Regions from separate parts of the Homo sapiens genome. Here all the other regions are linked to region 2. The links come from fine-mapping of genetic effects on gene expression. A gene starts in region 2. Each other region holds a variant in brackets. All regions are shown on one strand. Distances are from middle to middle.

The links.
Region 1: its variant is fine-mapped to the expression of SEMA4F in whole blood (TOPMed, PIP 0.98).
Region 3: its variant is fine-mapped to the expression of SEMA4F in fibroblasts (GTEx, PIP 0.99).
Region 4: its variant is fine-mapped to the expression of SEMA4F in lung (TOPMed, PIP 0.97).
Region 5: its variant is fine-mapped to the expression of SEMA4F in whole blood (GTEx, PIP 0.92).

Annotation. Positions count from the first base shown.
Region 1 is chr2:74,704,714-74,709,842 of GRCh38, reverse strand. It overlaps a transcript of SEMA4F not described here. Among named protein-coding and RNA genes, the nearest start is that of SEMA4F, 53 kb to the right of the region's middle. The variant C/A (reference allele first, on the strand shown) is at 2,276.
Region 2 is chr2:74,651,496-74,656,624 of GRCh38, reverse strand. SEMA4F (ssemaphorin 4F) reads right to left here and starts at 2,378. Exons shown (of 14, transcript NM_004263.5): 1 at 2,104-2,378; 2 at 1-91. The coding sequence starts at 2,248. RefSeq lists a silencer at 2,102-2,531.
Region 3 is chr2:74,098,556-74,103,555 of GRCh38, reverse strand. It overlaps TET3 (tet methylcytosine dioxygenase 3), which reads right to left. Exons shown (of 12, transcript NM_001287491.2): 11 at 3,944-4,280; 12 at 1-3,163. The coding sequence ends at 1,380. Among named protein-coding and RNA genes, the nearest start is that of BOLA3, 47 kb to the left of the region's middle. RefSeq lists an enhancer at 3,607-4,106. The variant C/G (reference allele first, on the strand shown) is at 2,244.
Region 4 is chr2:74,570,813-74,575,941 of GRCh38, reverse strand. M1AP (meiosis 1 associated protein) reads left to right here. Exons shown (of 11, transcript NM_001321739.2): 7 at 363-504. Among named protein-coding and RNA genes, the nearest start is that of DOK1, 19 kb to the right of the region's middle. RefSeq lists enhancers at 3,489-3,698, 4,696-4,795. The variant A/G (reference allele first, on the strand shown) is at 2,049.
Region 5 is chr2:74,691,773-74,696,901 of GRCh38, reverse strand. It overlaps a transcript of SEMA4F not described here. Among named protein-coding and RNA genes, the nearest start is that of SEMA4F, 40 kb to the right of the region's middle. The variant C/T (reference allele first, on the strand shown) is at 3,058.

The sequences.
Region 1 (5,129 bases), 53 kb before region 2:
CTTCTCTCTCTCTTTTTCTCCTTCTCGCTCTTTTCCACCCCGTCACACATATACACACATGCCCTCTTACCTTTCCACCTTCTGCCATGGGATGACACAGCAAGAAGGCCCTCACCAGATGTGAACCCCTCAACCTTGGACTTTCCTGCCTCCAGAACTGAAAGAAATAAATCTCTTTATAAATATTTTTTAAATAGCCAAATGCTGAACAAAACCGTTCAAAAACAGTAGATTACATACTGTATTATAATGGAGTGCTTTAACATGTGCAATATAGGCATATAATATATACTGGTTTTACAAACTATTTCCATTATTTTGTATTCAGCTTGCTTGTAAAATAACTTTTTCTATCTTGAACATCAGAGAGTAGCAAAAAACTGACTGAAACTGCCTAGAAAATTACATTAGGCTAAATTATAATGTTTTAATATAGCTAGGCAATCTCCCTTTTATTCCTGAATGACATTTTCACTGAATTAGGATTCTGGGCTGACAGTTCTTTTCATTCAGGACTTGAAAAATGTGTGATGCCTCCCTCTGGCCTCCACAGTTTCTGATGAAAAATTTCTGTCATTCAAATTATTTTCCCTCTCTGTGCAAGGTGTCATTTCTCTCATTCTGTCTTGTCTTAGTTTTACAGAAGTTTGATTATGATGTGCTTTGTCATGGATTTCTTTTCAGTTTATTCTGTTTGAGGTTCATTAGCTTCTTGAATTATGCAATCACAGCTCACCGCAACCTCTGCCATCTGGACTCAAGCCAACCTCCCACCTCATCCTCCTGAGTTAGCTGGGACTATAGGCACGCACCACCACACCAGCTCTTTTTGTGTTTTTTGTAGAGACAGGAATTTGTCATGTTTCCCAGGCTGGTCTCAAACTCCTGGGCTCAAGCGATCCTCTTACCTCAGCACCCCAAAGTGCTGGTATTAATGGGGTGAACCACCGCACCCAGCCTATTTGGCTCCTCTTTATGTCTTGTGTTTTCCTGCTGAGACATTCTATTTTTAAATTTGTTTTAAGCATGTTTATAACTACTCATTGAAGCATTTTTATAATGGTTTCTTTAAAATTTTTGTCAACATCTGTGTCATCTCAACATTGGCATTTGTTGTCTTTTCTCATTCAAGTTGAGATTTTCCTGGTTCTTGACATGATGAGTGATTTTCTATTAATTCCTGGGCTTTGGGGGAATTATATAAGACATTATATCTTATTTAAATTTTCTGTTTTAGCAGGCCCTGTCTGACACTGTGCCAGTCAGGAAAGGGGACTGCTGCTTCATAATTGCCAGGTGGTTGTGTAAGTCCACAGTCCTCACTTGGCCTCTGTGGACACTCCACTGGGGTAGAGTGTCTCATTACAGCTGGTGAGGGTGAGAGTTCCAGGTCCCCACATGGCCTTCACTGACATAATCACTGAGGAGAAGGTCATTACAGGGCACATCACCCCAGCAAGGAAGGGTTGGGGTGCCTCATCACAGCTGAGTGAGGGGAAAAGCCTAGGCTCCTTTTTAATATGGGTCATATTTTTCTACTTCTTCTCATACCTGGTAATTTTTGCTTAGATACTAGACATTGTAAATGTACTTTGCTGGGTGTTAAATATTTTTGGATTCCTATATATATTTTTGAACTTTGCTCTGGGATAAGTTAAACTACTTGGAAACAGTTGGATCCTCAGGTTTTGATTTTATGATTTTTTTTTTCAAGGGTGCTGAGAAGTGCTCAGTCTAGGGTTATTTATTGCCCACTTCTGAGGCAAGGACCTTCTGTACAAACTACTGAGTGCCCCAGGAATCATGGGACTTTCCAATCTGGCAGGTGGGAACTGGCACTGTTCTCAGCCCTGAGTGAGCACTGAGCAGCGCTGCTTCTAATCCTCGCAGATGGTTTCCTCACACACATGTGCTGATTGGTACTTAGTTGAACCGATCTTGAGGAGACCCCTGAGGATCTCCTGGGCTCTCTCTGTGCACCTCTCTCCTCTCCATCATCTATCCTGCAAACTCTAGTTGCTTTGGTCTCCCCATACTCTTATCTCTGTTTCCTCAACTCAGAGCATTTTCCAGGCTCCATCTGGGTTCCACCTTCCTGAACTGTGCCCTAGGAACTTCTTCAGGGCTGTAAGCTGGAGCAATTGTAAAACTCTCCTCAACTCCCAGGAATCACTGTCATTTGTCACCTGATGTCCATGTCTTGAAAACCATTCCTTCATATATCTTTATTGTGTTTGTTGTTGTTGTTGTTATTGTTTCAGGCAAGAGGGCAAAT[C/A]TGAACCTATTACTCCACTTTGGCCAGAAGCAGAAGTCTTCAAGAGAAATTGTTAACCTTTTTAAAAAAAAAAAAAACTTTCATAAAAGCTGCAAGAATACAATGAACATTTACATACCTTTAACCTAGATTTACCAGTCGTTAATATTTTGCCTCATTTGTTTTATTTCTCTCTAGATAGTTGGATAGATGGATAGATAGATAAATAGATAATCTGCACACATGCACACATTATTATTGGTTTTGCCTAGCCATTTAAGAATAGGTTGCTGACATCATGCTCCTTAACCCCAAATACTTCAGCATCTGTCTTTTAAGAACAAGGATCTTTTTATATAACTACAGTATAATTAACAAATTTGGAAAATTTAGCATTGATAACAAACTATTATACAATATATAGCCTACATTCAAATTTTGCCAATGTACTTTATAGTAATTTTTTCCAACCCAGAATCCAATCTAGGATCATGAAATGCATTTGTCAGATACATATTTTTAAAATATATTTTAAAATATAACCCATATGACTTCCTAGTTAGTTAAATGCAGGTAGCAGAAGGGTGAGATCCAGCCTTGTTCTGCTTCCAGGTAGCAGAGGAGAGGGAGTGGCCTACCAGGGATCCTGCTTGGTCACTGCCTCTGAAGCCTACTACCTAATCCCTGCAGTTAGGGTGTCTCCTCTCCTCATTTGGCTCTTTGATGAGTGTGAAGTGAAAATGCTCACTCACTGAGAAGTGCTCAATGGAGTATAAAAACTAATAGAAATGAGATGAAGAGATTTCAAACAAATAGGCAAACTCAGAAGTGAAAATCAATGACACAAAAGTGGTAATGCTATAAAATAAATAAATGCAAAGAGATTAACCGTGAAATATGAATCAACAAACCTCGTGCAGACAACCTTGTCCAGTACTGCCTGTGTCAGAAACTTCCCCACGTCTACTCCAGACAACCCATCTGTCCCTACTCTTCCTCCTTGCCACTGCACCCACATTCTTTGGCCTTCGGGAAAAGCTCTAGCCTCAATTGCTGATTCCTGAAATCTGACATCAAGTTCACATCAGATCTCACTCCCTGATTATGCAGCCAGATCTCCCCTCTATGCATCTCCATGACCCTATGTTTGTCTCACTCATGAGCCACTGATCTGGGTCTGCCTGGACCTGAAGTCTTTGGGTTTGTGGGTTCTGAGCCCCTCTAATACTGCAAGCTCCTGTGGTGTCATGGAAAAATTTTAAACCTGTATGAATATCGATAAGTTCTTTGGCGTCAGATCTGGTTTCAAATCCCACTGAATGTACAATCTTAGGCTAGTTTCTAATCTTCTATGAGCCTCAGTTCCCTTATCTGTAAACTGGAAACATAATATCCCATGCAATTATGGTAAAAATTAAATGAATTAAATTATACAAAGGATTCAGCTCATTGCCTAAAATGTTAAAAAAAATTCAATAAATGTTGTTTCTCCTTCTCTTATTCATTTTTTGAATTCCCAAAGCCTAAAATGTGTTACTAGTAATTTAATGCAAATTAAAATGGCTTGTAATTACATGACTAATTCACATTAACCATAAAGGAATCAGAAAATATACAAAAAAAAAGAAAAGAAAATAGAGAATAACTTGTAACCTCCAAACACCAAGATACTAGTGTATAAATTGATACATATCTTTTGAAACTTTAAAAATGTGCAAATATGGCCAGGCCCAGTGGCTCACACCTATAATCCCAGTGCTTTTGAGAGGCTGAGGCAGGAGGATTGCCTGAGACCAGCAGTTCAAGACCAGCCTGGACAATAATAGCAAGATCCCATCTCTACAAAAAAAATTAAAAATTAGCTAGGCATGGTGGCACACATCTGTAGTCCTAGCTACTCAGGAGGCTGAGGCAGGAGGATCACCAGATCCCATGAGTCAGAGGCGTCAGTGAGCTATGATTGTGCCACTGCACTCTAGCCTGAGTGATAGAGCAAGACCCTGTTTCTATAAAAAGTTTTTAAATACTCATTGTAAAATACTGTACATAGTGCTTTATAATCTGCTTTTTATATGATAATATATGACAAACATCTTTCATTGACCATAAATAGATTTCTCAATATTATCCATTATGGCTACAGAGTAAACCTATACAGGGATGTCTCTACTTACTCAACCAATTCCTTATTTTTGAATACTTAGATCTTTTGCAATTTTTTCACTATTTCCAGGCAATTACTGTGATGACAAGCTTGTAAATCTTTGTTCTTATTCTCAATTAAATTCCTAAGAGTGGAATTGCTAGGATAAAGAAAATGTGAAAATGTTAACACTTTTGAAATACATTGCCTAATTGCTCTCCAGAAAGATGTTACCAAATTATATTCCTCACCTACTCAGGGTATACGGTCATTCTTTGCTTGCCTTTGCCATGGGGAAATGGTATTTAATTGTTATTTTAATTTCCTTTTTTAAAAAATGTAATTTGTATTTAGAAAATGTTGGACTGAATAAATGCACTTCTCTGTCCATCCTGACCCTCACACCAAACCCATCTGCACATTTGCAAGCTTTCCCTTCTAGGATGAGTGGTCATGAAGAGAATATGATCCTAATTTGCATGAAACTGATGGACCCTTGGATTGAGGGGCAGGAGGAGGACCAAACGCATAGGAGAACAAAGACATCTGCAGTGTTGGGAGGAGCTGAAGAAGAGCAGGGCAAATCATAGGATTCCAGGGCTAGCAGAAATGAAGGTCAGGATTATGGGGCCGGGTTTGGAGAAGGAGAGAAGATAGGAAGGGACAAATCCAGTGACCATTCGGAGGGCAACTGGGGTTCTGCTAGGGCTGGGAGCATTATTGGAGACGTCT
Region 2 (5,129 bases):
ACATAAAGTGTGTGGGAGGCAGGATCCACAAGGAGAACAGAGTAATTGTATGTGTGAGGGACTGCGAACCGGGTGAGACAGGAGTCAGCCTCTGGCAGGAAGAGAGGAGAGTGATGTTAGCCATCGCTTCCTAAGGGTCAAGTCCACAAGAGCAAAACCAAAGGGGCCAATTTTTGTTTTCTTCCAAGTACCATTTATTAAGCAGCCATGGGGGAGAAACACAGCCTTGACAAGTGAACCAGAGATAGATGAGGCCAGAATATTTAGCACACAATCCAGTGGGTAAGTATGCTTTTTCTATAAAAATAGAGCACTAGCTGGACACGGTTGCTCACGCCTGTAATCCCAGCACTTTGGGAGGCTGAGGTGGGTGGATCACTTGAGGTCAGGAGTTTGAGACCAGCCTGGCCAACATGGTGAAATCCCGTCTCTACTAAAAATACAAAAAATTAGCCAGGCAAGGTGGCGCGCACCTGTAATCCCAGCTATTTGGGAGGCTGAGGCAGGAGAATTGCTTGAACCTGGGAGGCAGAGGTTGCAGTGAGCCAAGATCACACCACTGCACACCAGCCTGGGTGACAGAGCAAGACTCCGCTTCAAAAAAAAAAAAAATCTAAACCTCATATTAGCATTCAAAATTCGTATCTATTTAAAGACTGGAATAAGTTGGCATGAATTTACCTTCCTAGCTCAACCTCTGGTTCTGGGGACCCTACCCTTGCACCAATACAGCTCTGCTCTACCTGCTTCCTCTGCTCAGTACCCTCAAGACTGCAGACTGGACACCAACCCATTCATTCCTAGATGTACTGATGAGTCCCGCCCACTCCTTCCTCCCACACCCATACTTACCTCTGTGCCCACTCTCTCATGCTTAGTATAAGCCCTGGATCACCTAACTTCCCCTCACATCCTCAACTCTGCTTCACCTTGCTTGCCATCTAGACATCTCTGGATGCCTGGACATCAACCCAGCCTGGCAATCTCAACTTACTTTGTGGCTATTGCTTGGGTGCAAACTGAAACCCCAGGCTCTGGCCACAACTTCGCCTTCTGGAATCACAGCATCCCTATATGGCACTAGTCTGAATTTAAACTCTAAACTACTATTAACCAGTCCAGAGTTGTTGCCAACAGGTTGTACTCTTGGCTTCACTGGTTCTGTCTGCCCAAGGTGCTAATAACACTCAATGCCCACTGAGAAGACAACAAGGTCCACGGCCATGCTCATACCCACCTCAGCAGAGTCTAAAATGTGAATCGCCCCAATGATCACTTTTAACCTTGTGACGTCTCCTAGCTTCTTCCACATCTTTTCAAAGGATCATATCCCCCTCCTCTATTTTTCCTTCTGAAGACTTGAAAAATCATTTAAGCAGAACTTTACATCAACACATTGAATGGTTTACCAATATTCAATGTAGGGAATGGGCAGAGGCAGCGAGGAACACTGAGGAAGTTAAGAGAGTTAACGTGGATCCAATAATGGGAGAATGGGAGCTGCTGTCAGAGATGTCAGGGGAGCGGGAAGGGCTGTCAGAAGGGCCAAGAGGCTCGGATGATGTATAGAACTGATAGGGAAATGAATTGGAGAAGATGGAAATGCTGACCTGGAGATCGGAATGGAAAGCTGGAGTAGAATGAAAGACTGATGGGTCTGAAAGCAGAGTGGGCGTCAAGCTGGAATGATGGACCCAGGTGTATGTGCGGGGAAACAGGGGACTAAGGGAGACGGAACTTCGAAATGAACGACCTCGGGCAGCCCCCACCCGAGCTCTGGGCCTCAGTGTCCGAGTCTGCACGGTGAGGACTGGACGCTCCTGCGGCTCCGGGAATAGGGCCCGCTGGTGCAGCCTGGGCGTGTCGTGGGAGCCGAGGCGCGAGGCCCGGGCTGGGGATGAGGGGCTGAGGGGCGCGGGAGGGATGCAGAGAGGATGCGGTGAAGTGCGAAGATCTCGCCCCGGTCCCGGCGGGGCGTGGGCGGCGTGAAACGCCATACACCAGGCTGAGAGGCCCGGGTCCGGCCGAGCGGTCTGAGGAGCAGGTGGGTGTGGGTGTGGGTGTGGGCGCGAAGGGCTGAGGGCGTGGGCGTCCGCGCCTTACCAGAGATTGGAAGCGAGGTTCTGGGCACCGAGCGGGGGACGCGGCCGGATACCGGGCCGCTCAGCACCGCCAGCAGCAGTAGCGGGAAGGGCGAGGCTGTAGGCTGCCCGGGACCCGGGCGGGGCCGCGCAGCAGAGGCCGGCATCTTTGGCTCCGCCTGGCCGCGGGTGCGGCGCAAGCTACGGCCTCTGCTCAGGGCCCCGGGGCTACTGGCCTCGGCCCCACTCGGGTCCTCTCGGCTCGGTCCGGCTCAGCCTGAGGCTGAGGGATGAAACACCGCCCGGCTCCGCCCCCTCAGAAAGGGGCCAATGGTCGGGCCTCCTTCTTCCTCCAGCCAATCGGGATTGAGTGAAGGCGGGGCTGAGGGGAGGAGAGGCCTAACCCAGGCAGAGGCGGAGCTAGACCCAGGTGAAGGTGGGAGTTCTGCCTCGGAAGTGCGCTGGGGCTGCCACTCAGGGACCTCGAGTGGCGAGTTTGCTCCGGCCACTCCAAAAACTCAAACGCCCATAGCTGTACTAATAAGGAAAACTTACTAATAAGAGGACGTGGATACACGCACCAAGTTTCTCAAAATTAATACTTTGCAAGCATTTAAGGACGGCTGCCTATGTGCTGGGCAGGCACAGTGTAACGCGCGCGCGCACACACACACGCACACACACACACACACACACACACACGATTATACAGAAAATACTAAAAATCACGGCCCTTGCCCTAGGGAGTTCACACTGTAATGGGGCTTCCAAATGTAAGCAAATAACTGCAAATAGATAATTGCAATACGAAGCAATGCACGTTTGCTATAATAACGTGCAATAAGTGTGCAGAAGGGCCAGGTTTTGCCAGAGGAAATCAGGAAGGCCTCACAGAAGAGGTGACATTTGAACTGATTCTTCTAGGGTTGGTAGGCCTTTGAGGGCGAGGAACAAAGACTGCCTATGGGCATATCCACTTGGATATCCTATAAACAAGGCAAGCATAGGTCCTGAGGATAACTCACTATCTCCTCCATCCCAACCCTAGCTCCTTCTTTTTTTTTTTTTTTTTTTTTTTTTGAGACGGAGTTTCGCTCTGTCGCCCAGGCTGGAGCGCAGTGGCGCGATCTCGACTCACTGCAAGCTCCGCCTCCCGGGTTCACGCCATTCTCCTGCCTCAGCCTCCCAAGTAGCTGGGACTACAGGCGCGCGCCACCATGCCCGGCTAATTTTTGTATTTTTAGTAGAGACGGGGTTTCACCGTGTCAGCCAGGATGGTCTCGATCTCCTGACCTCGTGATCCGCCCGTCTCGGCCTCCCAAAGTGCTGGGATTACAGGCGTGAGCCACCGCGCCCGGCCCCTAGCTCCTTCTTCAAGCACTTAGTCTGCACTTAGTAGGTAGTCTTTGCTTTCTCCTCTTTCACCCCCATTGTATTAGTTATTTAGGCTGCAAAACAAATGTAACAAATTAACCTCAGAATTTGGTGGCTTAAAACAAACAAACAAAAGACATGGTCCCTGAATTCGAATTGCTTAGCCTGGAGGGAAAATCAGACATTTGGAATAAACTTTTATTATCTCTCACAATCTCTCTGCGTCAGAAATTTAGGAGTAGTTTAGCTAGGTGGTCTGGCTTCCAGTCTCTCACAAGATTACAGTCCAGATATCAAACGGGGCAGCAGTCCACTGAAGGCTTGCCTGGGGCTGGAGGATCCACTTCCAAGATGGCGGACTTCCATGCCTGCCAAATTGGTAGTGGCTGTTGGCAGTAAGTGAAGGTTGTTCTCCACATGAATTTCTCCATGGGGCTGCTTGAATGTCTTCACAAAATGGGGTGACTTCCTCAGAGCAAGTGATCCAAAAGAACAAGGCAAAAGAGCAAATGATATATTTGTGACCTAGCCTCAGAAGTAACACACAATCTCTCGGCCATATTCTACTTGTCACACAGGGCAGCCCTGATGCACTGTGGAAGGGGACTTCACCAGGTGGTACAGGGATTTCACTGGGAATACAAGGATTTCAGCCTCCTTTCTTGGAGACTAGCTACCATGCCCATATGTAAGAAATCACTATGTCCTTATAAATCTGACTAAAAAGTAACTTAAATCCATCCTTTTCTTTCCATTATCATCATAGTTCAGGACATCATCATCATTCACCTGGACTGTGTGATAATTTCATTTAAAAAACAAAAACCTAGCCTCCAGTCCCTCCCCTTCCAGACTGCCATCAGGATAATCTTTCTAAAGTGCAAGTACTAGTTCTAGTTTGTTCTTTCAACAGTTATTAAGGGCCTAATATGTGCCAGGCATTTTACTAAGTACTAGAGATAAGATTAAGACATGGTCCGTTGGCTGGGCATGGTGGCTCATGCCTGTAATCCTAGCACTTTGGGAGGCTGAGGCAGGAGGATCACTTGAAGACGAGTTCGAGACCAGCCACGTCAACATAGCAAGACCCTGTCTCTGCAAAATAATAATAATAGCAAGGCCTGGTGGCACACACCTGTAGTCTCAGCTACTTGGGAGACTGAAGCAGGAGGATCACTTGAGCCCAGGAGTTCAAGGCTGCAGGGAGCTACGATCACACCATTGCACTCTAGCCTGCCAAAAAAAAAAAGCCATTGTCCTTGAATTCAAATTGCTTAGCCTAGAGGGAAAATCAGGCATTTGGGATCAGTACTTCTAATCTTCTCTCTGAAATCTTCTTTCTAAAACCAACCTCAACACAATGGAACCCCTGCCCCCCGTCTGAGTTTCTTCCTCTAGCCCACTATATGCCTTTCCTAAGCTGCTTCTCAGCAGTCTAGTCTAGGCCTTAGTCCCTTCTCTGAACATGACTTATTGGTTGTCTTTTGATTTTTTTAATATTTTTTCAATTTTTTTCACAAAACATACAATAAGAGGTTCTTATTGTGCAACCTAATTGCACTTAAGTACATGCATTCATGTACCCAATGTACATATTAGTGAGTTAAATTTTTAACAAAGTCATACTTACATTATATTTATCTTTACTTCAGGAGCTAAATTCTCATTTTTTTC
Region 3 (5,000 bases), 550 kb after region 2:
ATGATCAAATGGAGAAATGGCACCAATTAGGGAGGAAAATTATAGCAACCTGTTGAAAATGTTTGACTCTTGCACTTTAAAATTGTTAAGTGTAGGCCCCCGAACCCAATGACAGCATGGAGGAAGCAGGCTCAGGTGTGAGGCATGCACCATTGTCCAATGTGGAAATTCAGGGATCAGGATAGATGCATTAACTGTTGTTACACTGGTCTGCTGAGCTCCTGTAGGATGTGACCTGCCCAAGAGTCAAGAAAGTCCCAGCACAACACTACAGCACCAGGCTCCGCACAGCACCATGCACAGAGCACCACTGGCTTTTCACAGCTTGGGTTCAACTTCCTGTTTTTAAAGATACAGTAGCCCTTTTTCAGTATCAGCATAGACTTTGGGGGCATTTTTTAAAAAACTGCCACTAAGACAAATTCCTTCAGCTCAGCATGCATTGGCTTGGCAACATGGTGGGCACGGCCCCTAAGAACCTCGCACTCCAGCTCCAGCGTGAGGTGCTGCCTAGTGAACCATGACATCGTGTGACTCCATAAATAACGGACAGAGGATTCAGTGTGGAGACTAGCAAGCTTGAAGCCATCTACTTCCAACCTGGTTTCTGGGGAAAGCTATGCCAGCATCTCGTGGGGCTGGCCTGGGGTGCATCTGCCCTTCGACTCCAAGCCGGGGACTGGAAAAGGGACCCCAGATGGTTTTCTGCAGACTCTCCCATCCTATCAGAGAGGACAGAAGCTGTCCTGAGGCTCCCTTCCCCAAAGGGAAGGGGTGTATGTCGGGAGGGATGAACTGGGTGGCTACCGTCCGCGCTTGGCTCTCGAGGGGCAGATGGCTGAGGACCTCGCCAGCGCCCGAGGGGCTTGGCTCGCCAGACCCAGCGAGACTGGGCGGGGGAGCACTACTGGCCTTTCCTGCCCATCCTTTACCATTACTATTGTCGCTTTTAAAAAATCCAATAAATACACATTTTAAATGGAATTTAAAACTACTCCTTTGTGAAAGGATACTATAAACTTTCTTTCCATTATTGTGATATACAAGGATAGAGTTTTAAAAACAAAGAGAAAATAAAAATAAAAACCCCCCAGACAAGGGGGGGGGACAACTTGGAGATATAAATATTAAGATCACGGAAAAATCACCCGACAGCCGTAGTTTCTTCTTCAAAGTGCTGGGGAAGTGGGGGTAAGGGAGGGGCGGGTCAGTTCTGAGGTTTGGACCATAAATACATATATATGATATGCGCATCTATATATGTATATAGAGATAAAAAGACTTCTGCACCCCCAACCCGCCCCCAGGTATGAGGGCAAAAGCACCACAGAGACAGCTCGGGCCAGGCCCGACGCTGAGGTACGCTGGCTCCCTGGCACCTAGATCCAGCGGCTGTAGGGGCCAGTGACCTTCGTGTAGGCATAGGAGGACACGGTGACCGCCGAGTCTGTGGGCACAGCCAGTGCCTGCCGGGTGGGGACGACCCCCTTCTTCTCTTTCTGCTGGGGCTCAGCAACCACAGTGCCCCCCCACTTGCGCTTCTTCCCGTAGAGCTTGGCCTCCTGCTGGCCCAGGCCCAGCCGGGCAGCCTCCTCCTGCCGTGCCCGTGCCCTCTCCGCCAGCTGCTTCATCTTGGCTTCCCAGAGGGCCAGCCCGTGGTTGGGCTGGTTGAGGTTCTTGTGCTGGTAGAAGACCAGCGAGATGCGGGTGGGGTGGCAGCGGTTGGGCTTCTTAAGCGGCGTGGTGGCGTGCAGCTCCCGCCGGGCACACTCGATGAGGATGGAGCCGTGGGCTGGGGCCACGGCCACGCCGCCGATGTTCTCGTCCAGGAAGTTGTGTTCACTGTCCGACCACAGCTCCTCCTCTTCCTCCTCCGCACCACCACCGCCCTTCTCCTCCTTCACCGCTCCCTTGCTGGGGGGCTCCTCAGCCGGCCCCTCCTCCAGGCTGAAGGGGTCCCACAGCTTCTCCTCTGACTTCAGAGCCCCAAACAGCTTCTCGCTGGATCCCAGGGGCAGACCAAAGGACTGCCAGGCCCTGTCCAGCTGGCTGGCCCCTGCGGCTGGAATCCTGCCCTCCTCTCCTTTCATGGGGTTCCACAGCTTGTCTTGGAACCCAGGACTACCTTTCAGGGCCGAGTTGAAATCCCCTGCCCCCAGCGCCCACGGCTTCTCAGTCAGGCTGGGCCCAGCCAAGGCCGAGGTGCTGTTCCCAAACTTGCAGGGGCTCCACGGTTTGCCTCG[C/G]AGCCGTCCTCCAGAGTGGGAAGCTGCCTGCTGCCCCTCACCGGGGAACAGCCCCCACTGGCCATCTGTGAAGTGGGAAGGGGCCAGGCAGCTGGCCCCAAAGGAACTGAGCTTGTCAGGGACGATGGCAGGACTCTCCCCAGACGAGAACACACCCCAGCTGCCACCCACACCGTTAGTCCTCTTGGGGGACATGCTTGGGCCTCCTGAGTACTGTCCCCAAAGGTGACTGGGTCCTCCATTCTGAGACACCTCGGACAGAGGTGTCTTGCCCATCTTGCCAGCGTCTCTGGGCACAGGCTCAGCCTGGGTCAGCGGGTCTACTGGCTCTTGCTTGATGGATCTGTTGTAGCAGTTGGAGCTCTGGGCAAAGGGGGAGGGGTCCCTGGACACTGAGTGGAGTAGGGGGGCCTTGGGAAGCAGATACTCCTTGGGGCCTGGGTACGCAGGCTGCTGGTGGTGAGGAGTGGGGTGGTGGGCGTCTGTGGGAACAGCCTGGCTGGGCAGCTCGGCAAACTCAGCACCACCGTAGGCCGGGCTCAGGCTGTTGTGCAGAGCGTGGAGGTCTGGCTTCTTCTCAAAACTGCCACTGCTGCCACTGTGCCCCCAGGCACCAGGACCCAGGAACTGAGAGGGGAAGACGGGGTTGCTGGATGGAAAGCCATAGTAGCTAAAAGACGGGAGAGCGTACTTGGAGTGGAAGCCATTGACGGAGGTCAGGCTGGGCTGTGCATAGTAGGAGTGGTAGGAGTACACGCTGTTCATGCTGTAAGGGTCGGAGGGCCGGCAGTTGCCCAGCACCGAGTAGCTCTCCACCACCGCGTTGCCGCTGTACTTGAAGGAGCTGAAGTGGTTCTGCGGCTCCACCTTGAGGGAGGGCTTCAGGCCTTGCTGGGACAATCCACCCTTCAGAGACAGGCCTGGGGAAACAGAAGGCAAGATGGCAGAGGGGCAGACAACACCACAGCCTGGAGAGGCCCTGGGTCGGGGACTGGGGATGGACCCTCCCTCTTTCCCAGGGATGTTTCCTCTTTTGGGACAGGCAGGTGAGGTGCTGAGGCATGTCCAGCCCAGAACGGGTCGTACTCCCTGGGCCCTGCTCAGCACAGGCCCCAGCCCCAGCCCCACTGGGGGTGGGAGGAGGCGATCCCTGCTGAGAAGCACCTCATGCGGGGTCCACAGTACCCCCACCGACTCCTCTCTTCACCCTAGAGAACTCCAGAAGTTGTACTGAACCACCACCACCCACTCTGTGCCCAGCCCAGTCGGGATCACTGCAGGGACCAGGGCCAGGAGAATGAGAACTCAGATGCCTGCCAGCAACCGTCTCCGCCCATAAGCCCTGCTGCCCTGGCACACACCCACATGTCCTGAAGTGCTGCTACTCACCTCAGTATCTCAGAGGGGAGCAAACTAGAGCTCAGAGGGGAGCCTCTGATTCTCTGAGGGATGCAAACTAGAGGAGAAACCCAGTGCTTCCCCTCTACCAAGCTCACTTCCACGCAGATAACAAGTCCTGCTGTACTTGCATCCCCACGGCCTCCTATCAGGCTGGCTGTGGCTGCTGCAGATACCCTTCTGACTGACAATTAAGCAGAGGCCCCAGTTCCAGTGTGATGCAGGAGGGTGCGTGGAAGAGCAGGGGCCCCCATGAGGACAGTGCCATTGTGACTCCAAGCGGGCACCCTCCCCCCACACACCTGGGTCCGACGTAATGCCCGCCAGCTCCAGGGCCTCCTGCTTGATCTTCTCCGGAGTGCTCAGCTTCTCCTTCTGAATCTTCTTCTTCTCGGCTGCTGCCTTTCTGGCTTCCAGCTGCCGCTGGCGGCAGGACTTGGCAGGCTCGGGCAGGCGTCGGACCTCGCGGGGGAAGGCGGTGAGCACCTGGATGGCTCCGCTGCCCACCTTTGCATTCTGGTTCTCCTCGCTACCAAACTCATCCGTGTTGGCCATCTTGTACAGGGGGAGAACATGCAGCTGCTCATCCTCGGGAATCTTGCCCACGCAGCGATTGTCTTCCTTGGTCAGGGTGCAGACCTGCCCCAAGCAGTGGGGGAGAGAGGACATGGGGTTGGGGGACCGAGTGCTGGGAGAGAGGGGTCTGAGCACCCAAAACACATGACCTCATCTTTCCCCACACAATCCCAATACCAGCCACTACTACTTCCAAGAGTTTGTGGAAAGCACATTGATCTTGGTTCACGGGGCAACAGTATCACCAGCATTTACAGTCCACTCATCAACTTTCAAGGCACATTATCTCCTATGATCCTAAGAAGGCTGAGAGGAGATGAGATACCTGGCAAGGGGCCTGGCCAGGACCTGGAGGCTTGCTCTGCCCTCTGGCATAGCACTGACGCCACAGCACCACGTTGCCCAGTGAAGCTCAGACCGTCCACCATTATCTTCCTTGTTCTAAACACTCAGCCTCCTTTTGCTCTTAAAATACGTTTCCTTTTGGGAGGCCAAGGCGGGTGGATCACCTGAGGTCAGGAGGTCGAGACTAGCCTGATCAATATGATGAAACCCTGTCTCTACCAAAAATATAAAAATTAGCCTGGCGTGGTGGCATGCGCCTGTAATCCCAGCTACTTGGGAGGCTGAGACAGGAGAATTGCTTGAACCCAGAGATGGAGGTTGCAGTGAGCCAAGATCATGCCACTACACTCCAGCCTGGGCAACAAGAGTGAAACTCCGTCTCAAAAAAAAAAAAAAAGAGTTTCCTTTTTATTATAAACTCTATGTGCTGATTATAGA
Region 4 (5,129 bases), 81 kb after region 2:
GTTCAAGGCTGCAGTGAGTTAATTGAACCACTGCACTCCAGCCTAGGTAACAGAGCAAGCCCTTATCTTGAAAGAAAAACAAAACAAAACAAAAAAACACAATGAATTAGCAATAATGGCAGAGTCTGCTTCAACTCTTCCCAGTTCCTACCACTGTGCCCATGCACAGGTTCCTGAACTTTGACAATCTTCTGTGTGCTAGATACTATGCTAGATGCTGGCCATACAAAGATGCATAGTTCACAGACACTAATTTAAAAGCTTTCACAGTACTGTCTTAGAGTTAAGCTGAATTGAAGTGGATCTAGGTGGAGGTTCTAGATATCACTAAGGAGTCTTTGACTGTAATTATCTCTTCCTAGGGCTTTAAAATCTAGCGGGCTCTGCGAGTCATTGACATATGGACTCCCGTTCATCCTCAGACCTACAAGCTGTTGGCAGCTGGACTGGGATGAGCTGGAGACAAATCAGCAACATTTCCATGCTTTGTGTCACAGCCTGCTGGTGAGTACCCATGTCCCCAGGTGAAAAAGAAGAATCGTTTTTAAAGTACCAACCACAGAAAAGCAGCTAACTAACTCTGCCCAATCCTAAATCTGCCTCAACCCTCAAGAAGACAGAAAAAACTGGAAATACTCTGAAATTTGGAGTAAATATGACTTGCCTTTTGTTGGTTTCATGCTATAGAGAATAATTCCTGAATTCAGTTATACAACACTAAACTTGAAAATCCCCGATTGGCAAGCTTAACATTTAAATGGCAACAGGGAATTTTCCGTACGTACCTGTATTTTAAAACCTACTTCCTTCCTAACACTGATAGACGTTATGGTTCATTTAAATGAAGAGCATTTAGTCTATGCCAGACATTGTGTCAAGCCCTAGATATATATTCTGTAGTGACCTAAAAGACATTACCTATGACCTTAAGAAACCCACTCTCCAATGGAAGAAACAGAAATGTATATATTCTTAATTATGAGAAGTTTATAAAGGAAAAGAAAAAGCTGCTATAAGAAAGCCTGTCTATAGAAGTGACATTTAAACTAAGACCTACAAGATAAGTGAGAATTAACCAGGTGAAGGGTGGCAGGCAGAGCATTCCAGGTGTAAGGAAAGGCATGTGCAAAGACCCTAAGGCTGGAAAGAGCTGAGAGAAAAATCAAGAACAGAAAAGCCATTGTGACTGAAACAGGGAGGAAGGGAGAGAGTGACAAAAGGTAGGGTTGGAGAGGTGAGCAGGGGTCAAATCATGCAAAGCTTTGTAGGCCAAATTAAGGATTTGGACTTAGGGAAACAAATCATGAGAAATAACATTATCTATTTCAGTTTTTAAAATATTACTTGGGCAGAAATTTGGAAATGAACTCGCAGAAGCAAAAATGGAAACATGAAAATGAGCTAGGAGGGTATTGCAGTAGACTAGTCAAGAGACCGTGGTGGTTTGAACTAGAACATTGGAAGTCAAGATGAGATGAGCAAACCAATTAGAGAAATATTTTAGAATCGCTTCTTGGCCTTTTAGCTATGACCAAGTGTAGAAATATTTTAGAGAGAAGATTGTCAGAACTTGGTTGAGAGATTGGATATAGGGAGTGAGAAAGAGGAAGTATCAAATAACTGCATGGTTTCTGACTTGAACAACTAGATGGATGTCATTCCCTGAAATGGAAAAAATAAAAGCAGTCACATGAAACTAACACAACACTTAGCAAAATTAAAACAACTGCAAATAGAATGCAAGGACAGATATAGAATAAAGGTTTGACTTAGTAGGATGATCAGGACAGCACAGCAATGCATCTCTTTCACTATCAGAAGCAGACTTCTTTTTTTCCTGTTTCGAAGCCCGCACTCCCTTTTAGGTCCACCCACTGAGTTCCTGTTTCCTGTCTGAAGAACACCCATCTCCTGTCTTTGCAGAGCAGAGACAACGGAGCCGTTGTAACTGTTAGTGCCCAACAGCTCAGTTTACTATTTACTCCACCCAGTTCCTCAGAATCTGAGATGATACATCACATGGGAGGAATTTCTCCCAGGTGGCTTCA[A/G]TACATTCTTACAGTATTTGATATTTTAAACATACATTGACATTTTAATACACTGCTAGAGAGGATGTAAATTTTCCGGAAAATGATACCCTTTCCTTTTGCTGGGAATGTAGCCAAAGAAGACAGTCAGGAAAGGGATGAAGATATATGTACCAGCATGTTCATCTCGGTGTTATTTACAGTGGTGAAAAATTAGAAACAACTCAAATGTCCTAAGTAGGGGAAAAGTTATAGGAACTATAACCTGGTGTGGTGACTCACGTCTGTAATCCCAGCACTTTGGGAGCCCAAGGCAGGTGGATCACTTGAGGCCAGGAGTTCAAGACCAGCCTGGCCAACATGGTGAAATCCCACAGCTACTAAAAATACAAAAATTAGCCAGGCATAGTGGCACGCACCTCTAATCCCAGCTACTCAGGAGGCCGAGACATGAGAATCACTTGAACCCGGGAGGCAGAGGTTGCAGTGAGCCAAGATCGCACCACTGCACTCCAGCCTGGGCGACAGAGCAAGACCCTGTCTCAAAAAATAGTTATAATAGGCTGGGCACGGTGGCTCATACCTGTAATTCCAGCACTTTGGGAGGCCGAAGTGAGTGGATCACAAGGTCAGGTGTTCGAGACCAGCCTGGCCAACATGATGAAGCCCTGTCTCTACTAAAAATAAAATAAAATAAAAAATTAGCTGGGCGTGGTGGCAGATGCCTGTAATCCCAGCTACTTGGGAGGCTGAGGCAGGAGAATCGCTTGAACCTGGGAGGCGGAGGTTGCAGTGAGCCGAAATCGTGCCACTGCACTCCAGCCTGGGCAACAGTGTGAGACTCTGTCTCAAAAAAAAAATAGTAATAATAAGGATGGGAAAAAGTATTCCCTTCCATCCTGGCTTACATACACGAGATTAGAGTCTCCCTGCCACTAAACTCAGGGTTTGAGGATCTGTATTTATCTATCTGTCTATTTATTTATCAAATATTTACTCACCACTGTATGCCAAGCACTGTTGTAGAGATGAAGAGACCTTTTCTTTGTTAGTCTTCTGTCTTGGAAAAGGGCAGGGATGTAGTTGACCTGTCACTAGTAGATACCCATATTTTGGAGCATTTACTAAGTGGTAGTCACTTAACCAAGTGTTTTGCATACTTTACCTCATTTAATCCTCACAATAATCTGAAGTAGAGATTGTTATCCCAACTTTTGCAGATGGAGGAGGCTGAGGCCTAAAAAGACCAAGTAAGTTACCTAAGGTCACACAGCTACCAAAGTAGTCTTGTCAGAGTTTGAGGACCTAGCTCACACATGTAATCCCAACACTTTAGGAGGCCAAGGCAGAAGGATCACTTGTGCCCAGGAATTCAAGACTAGCCTGAGAAACAGAGTGAGACCCTGTCTCTATTAAAAATTAAGAAATTAGCCAGGAGCAATGACTCACACCTGTAGTCCCAGCTACTCGGGAGTCTGAGGTGGAAGGCTTGCCTGAGCCCAGGAGTTCAAGGCTGCAGTGACCCATGATCGCACCACTGCACTCTGGGCGACAGAGGGAGACACTGCTTAGGGGGGGTGGGAAAGAAAGAAAATTTAAAAAGAATTTGAACCTAGTTCTGTTGACTACAAAGCCCATGTTTTTAACTTCTTTGCTAAATTCCCTACTCTGGATGTAGCCAGATAAATACAGACTATAACACTGAAGCTAATTCTCCTTCACTTACACCCTATGCTTCTGTACTTCAGCGGAGTTGAACTCACTTAAAATGGCACAGTACTCATAACAACGGCTTACTCATCTTGTACTGCTGTTCTCTTTACTCCGTTTGGTCCACCTCATCTAGATTAAAGACCACTCTCCTATTCTGGAAAAGACAGCAGCAAAACAGTTTTCTTTCTTTTTTTTTTTTTTTTTGAGACGGAGTTTCGCTCTTGTTGCCCAGGCCTGGAGTGCAATGGCACAATCTTGGCTCATCACAACCTCCACCTCCTGGGTTCAAACAATTTTCCTGCCTCAGCCTCCCGAGTAGCTGGGATTACAGGCATGCACCACCACATCTGGCTAATTTTTTATTTTTAGTAGAGACGGGGTTTCTCCATGTTGGTCAGGCTGGTCGCAAACTCCCAACCTCAGTTGATCTGCCCACCTCAGCCTCCCAAAGTGTTGGGATTACAGGTGTGAGCCACCGTGCCTGGCCGCAAAACAGTGTTTAAATGCCTCTTCCTTCTTGTTTTTCACATGACATTTTCTCCAAGCAGCAAAAATCCTGAATGGCAGTATGTTATAGAGTACAAACTTTTCACAAACTTCAGCTCATTAATTCAACACAAATATTTTTAAGTGTGACGAGACTTATTTAGGGTTTTAACCTCCTAAGCCTATTTTTACAAGTTTGCCATGCTTCTTTAACTCCATCTTTGGTTTTTTATTCTTTCATATACCTTTTTCATATGTTCTTTTAAAATCTGATTTCAAGTCAGCTCCATATTTAACTCTCTTGCCTTCTGTTTTTCACTGTAATGTTCCCCTCCAGCCAACTTCTCATTCTAACTTCTGCCTTTCTGTTAATAGCAGCACCGCCATTGTCTAGTCACCCAGGCTTGAAACCTCAGTCACTTTCAGCCATCTCACCCTTTACACCTACTCCATCACTAAGTCATATCAATTTTCCACTCATAACATGAGTTGTAACTCTCCTTTACTTCCTGTTCCCACTGCTTGTCTCACCAAGACTTCTTCAGTAAACTCCTAACTGGCTTCCCTGCCTCCAATCTCTCTCTCTTCTGGTTTTCCCTGCACATTGGCACTAGCTTAATCTCCTTGAAGCATTCCCCTATCACATGTTTTTCTATGTATCAATACTCAATCACGTATTACACCTTGCCTATTCTATCCCTATAGCATCTGTTATCACTATCCTAATTCAAGCCCTTTTAACCTTTCCTTTAATACTGCAATAATCTCTCAACTTGTCTCAATGCTTTTTTAGTGCTTCCCATTCCTAGTCCATTTCACATAATGCCAACAGATTAATCTTTTGATTAATCTGATTCAGCACTGATTCTGCCACTACTCAGCTGAAAAATACTTTGTGGCTTA
Region 5 (5,129 bases), 40 kb before region 2:
AATAGAGATTAGTTAAATATACTATGATTCAGCCTTACAACACAATAATTTAAAACAGAACAAGGACACTTTCTATGCACTTATGTGGAAGGATCTCCTTGATATATTGTTTATGTAAAAAATAATGGAAATAAGAATGCATTTTAATATTTTAATTTTTTCTTTCTTTTCTAAAAATATTTTTTATTTCCATAGGTTTTTGGGGAACAGGTGGTATTTGGTTACATGAGTAAGTTCTTTAGTGGTGATTTGTGAGATTTTGGTGCACCCATCACCTGAGCAGTGTACACTGAACCCAACTGGTAGTTTTTTTATCCCTCACCCCCTTCCCACATTTTTATATTTGATTGTATTTTCACAAAGAAACACTAGAAGGGTACAGAAGAAATTAATAAGAGAGGCAGGGCCGGGCGCGGTGGCTCATGCCTGTAATCCCAGCACTTTGGGAGGCCGAGGTGGGTGGATCACCTGAGGTCAGGAGTTTGAGACCAGCCTGGCCAACATGATGAAACCCCGTCTCTACTAAAAGTGCAAAAAAATTAGCTGGGCATGGTGGCAGGCACCTGTAGTCCCAGCTACTTGGGAGACTGAGGCATGAGGATCGCTTGAACCTGGGCGGTGGAGGTTGCAGTAAGCCAAGATCATACCACTGCACTCCAGCCTGGGCGAAAGAGTGAGACTCCGTCTCAATTAAAAAAAAAAAAAAAAAAAAAAAAGAGGCAGGAGAGATGTTTTTCAGTATACAAACTTTTATATATATATTTTTAATCATGAATATTTTAACTTTGCAAAAAAGAAATTAATAAAGATTTTTTCAAAATCACTTCAGAATGCCTTCTAAATGGGCAAAGAGTGCTGAACTAGGTGGCAGAGGTTCAGATTTGATTTTAGGTGGGGCCCTGGCTTCCCTGAATTTGCTCAGCTGTGAGACTAGGGTGGCCCTGTATGCTCTCAGTCCCTTACAGCCTTGCTCTTCTATAAATAAGGTATTTTCCTGGATCGCACCCTGTGTTGTATTACCACTCCCTTCTGTGCCCTTTCGTTGTACAGACAGTATCAAGTTTAATGAGTATGTTTGACACCAACTTCGGGAGAATTCCCAGCATCTCACAATTCATATCTGGTTACTTCCTGCTCTTGGATTATATTTGTCAATCGTCCATGCCATGTACTTCTCTCTTAGGCTTTATTCAGAGGCTTTTAAATTTGCACTTTAACTTGGATTAGTCCTTTTAGAAAGCAATTTGGTCATATAAAAGGTAACTCATTTACTCTTTTGAAAGAGTTTAATACAGCGTCCTGTTTCTTGGGGAATTACCCTCTATATGACAAAGTCCAGTTGTTTTATTCATTGATTTGGATTTACTTCTGTTGAGGGTTGTAGGGATGAGGGAGTAGGGATAACAGAAATCCATGGGTAGAGGATATGGAAAACAAGGTGAGCCAACTGCTCTGCTACATTTGGAGAGAAAAAGGCAAGGCTGAGGACGACAAAAGTCCAGACAGGGGAGTGCTCTGTGCAGAAAAGAAGCACTGTTGTGCTCTGAGGTTGTGCAAAGGAGATCATTGTGTGAGAAGCATGGAGACAGAGCCTGAAGGTTCAAGGAGGATAGAGGAGCTCTACGAGTATAAGACACCAGCTCTGCAATTGAGTCTGCTCCCAGCTACACGGGAGGCAACTCGACTCACATCTGGCTGAGTGTCTGATGCTGTTGTGGACAGTGTTGCTATAACCTGCTGAGACACGCAGAGATCCCAGCACAACAATTTTCCTCTTTTTATTCCTTAAAAACCATTTTAGTTCAAAAACAAAATTTCAAATAATAAAAAAAATTCTCCTCCCAGCTATCACAGTCCTCAGTATCTACTAAAAGGAGTTGAAAACATATCCACAAAAACACCTGCACATGTATGTTTATAACAGCTTCATTCATAATTGCCAAAACCTGGAAGCAACCAAGATGTCCTTTAGGAGGCGAGTGGATAAATAAACTGCAGCACATCCAGACAATAGAATATTATTCAGCACTAAAAAGAAACAGGCTACATTAACCAGTCAATGTACATATTGCTTGGCAAGACTAAGCTTCAGCTTGTCCAGCATAAGTCTTGACTTACACTTCTGTATTCCCTACAGCAACTAGCCTCATGCTTTCCACCTGAAAGATGTTCCACAAGTGTTTGTTAATTTTACCTGATTGGCATCAAAATGAAGATAGCAACACAGAGCTGTTATTTAAAAGAATAAGCCAGAAGCTGAATGGTATTGTTTTTAACTATTAGGACATGTCACCACGCATCAGTCTTTCCCAACTCATTGTTAGCTGGGAATGACTGGGAATAGGAACGCTGGGGGAAAAATCCTGGATGGGTGTGGCTAATAAAGAGGATATGGCTGTGGAGCAGATAGACTTGGCTTCAAACTCTGCATTTACTACTTCCTAGCTGGGGACCTTGAGCAAACTGAGCTCTGGGTTCCTCATTTTGTAAAAAGAGTTCAAAAGGGCTCTTGGTGTGGTTGAAATGAGAGTTCGAAATAATATACTCAGAGCACCTGCCAAGGTGTCTGGCCCCAAGCTGCTCAATGTCTAACAATGATTTCATCACCTTCCTTGCTTCCATCATGTGCTGGAAAATCTAAGTGCATTAAAAAAAATGAGAGACTGAAGGATGTGAATCGCTATGAGAAAGCATGAATATCAAGAAGAAAGCATAAAAGGTATGAAAGAAGCACGCACACACACATGCACACACACGTGCAGCAATTCCAGGCTCAACTGTCTTGTCTGCAGATGTTTTATCAAACATAGGAATATATTATAGCCAAGTTGTCTAAACTCTGTTTACCTGAGTCTATCAGAGTTTATCTGTTAGTAATCTATCTCTAAAAGGCTGAAAGCTTCCTGGTTCATTCTAACACAGCAGTCCCGTTTCTGAGAATTTACTTTAAAGTATATCCACACACCTACAAAATAATGGATTTATGGGGTTGCTTACTGCAGCAGAAGACTGGAAACACCTCAAATATCTATCACTACTGGGAACTGGTTGAATAAA[C/T]AAACTATGACACAACCACACAAAGGAACACTGTAGCAATAAAAAAAAAATGAGGAAACACCCTATGAACTGATAGAGGACAATTTCCTTGATTTACAGTTAAAAAGAGCAGGTATAGCACAGGTTATAAAGCATGCTACCTTTTCTGAAATATTTTCAAGGCAACAACTTCACCTTCCCGATCTGCAAAACCACTAACACAGGGATGATCTTAGGAACCAACGTGGCTTCAGCACTAGGACATTCACAGGCTAAAGGAGAAAAACTATACCATCATCTTACTGGCTGCTTATGAAGATATTTGACATAATTCAACATCCATCCTATCCTCTTAAAAGAAAAATATAAAACCCTGTTAGTGTTAGAGGTAATGCAAAGACTCCCTCTGTATTACAAACCTATTAGAAACCAAGAGGAAGTGTGAAAAACAATGGTGAAATACTAAAGGCACTGCTATAAAATCAGGTTCAAGTCAAGAATGAGTTCTGTCTGGGCCAGTTCTGGAAGTTCCAGCCAACATGCTGAAATAAGAAAGAGAAGAAAGAAACAAATGTATTATTTTCAAATGATGTGATGTTAATCAATGGAAGGTTAGTTAAAATAAGAAATATCAAGCAACAGAATCCTATGCAGGATGATGATATAGAATAACATTTTATTGTGGAAAAGTACCCAAGATATAGTATCAAATGGAAGAAGCAGTTTACAAAATAGTATCATACTATGTTTATTGAAAATATCTATTTATATCCCTATGTTGAATATATACATAGAGAAAAGTCTGAAAGGAAATCCACCAAAATATATTTACAGATTGTATCTCTGGCCTATGGGTTTTGAAGTGATTCTTATTTTTATTTACTTTTCAGCATGTCCTAAATGCTTTATTACGAGCATATGTATGTAATTGTTTAGATAAATTTCTTTCACCCACAAATAAACACACTCGTGTGTGCACATGCAAAACTCATTTCAAGGTCAGTGAGATGAGCTGCATTTCTCTTAAAGTGGCTAGTGTTTGTGACCTAAGGCCACTTTCCAACTCACTCCCACCTTTGTGAAAAACCAAGCTGGTCTGCTCTGCCTGGTCCCTGCCCCTCTGAACAGAAGCCTCAGATCTGTGGGCTCCAAAAAAGCTTACTCTGGGTTTGATTTCCCAGGTGACCATGGCCCCTGTCCTCAGTACTCATACCCAGTCCTAGCCCTATCCTAGCTGTTTGCAAAGAACTCCCAGCCCTCTGAAGCCTGCCCACCTTGCCTGAGTGAAGAGGGCTCCTCCTTGCCACACATCCAACAGAAGCCTTTGCCTCCCCAGTGGGTGAATTTGGAGATCCCTGTGGCAGTCTGAAGCCTCCAAATGCCAGGCTTCTCAGCCCCACAATGGGGCTGAAGGTCATAGGCAGAGCATACCAGGTCCTGTCACCTCATCCCCGGTCTCTTGGGACCTTAAATGTCCCCCATATGTGTTTCCTCCCTTGGGTCCCTGCCTTGTATTTCAGACAGCTAGTTGGGTGGATTCTGCTACCTCGTTTCTGTTGGCCACATTTCATGAACTCTGTGTCTGCCTTTCCCCACCTCATCTTAGGCACATTGCCTGGCACAAGCTGCTGGTATGTGTGGTGCATCTGATCCTTACTTATTCTCCACCCTGCACCCTGAAGTTGTGAGAAGGCCACTCCTAGGTCTCAATTCCTCTGGGGAGAGGACTGGATTTGTTATCTTCCTGCGTCAACTTGAGTCATAATCCAGCAGTCTGCCCCTAGAGCCTGGTACTTCTTTTGCCTGGTACTTGCCCCACACCCCACCAGCTTCCCTCCTGGCCCAGTGCCCACCACACCATCGGAGGGTGGTCAGGCCTGCTCCGTAAGGCTGGACACTGTTACCCCCGACAGGAGCATTCCAATGGCTGCAGCAATGGAGTGACCGAGCCATATATACGTCCAGCATGACTCAGTAGACTGAGATCAAAGCTGGCCTTGATCATCTTGGGACTCTGAAAAATATTGGCATAATCATCCCTCATCTATCCAGAACCAGCTTCCTATCAGTCAGTGTCTCCTTTCCATAATTTA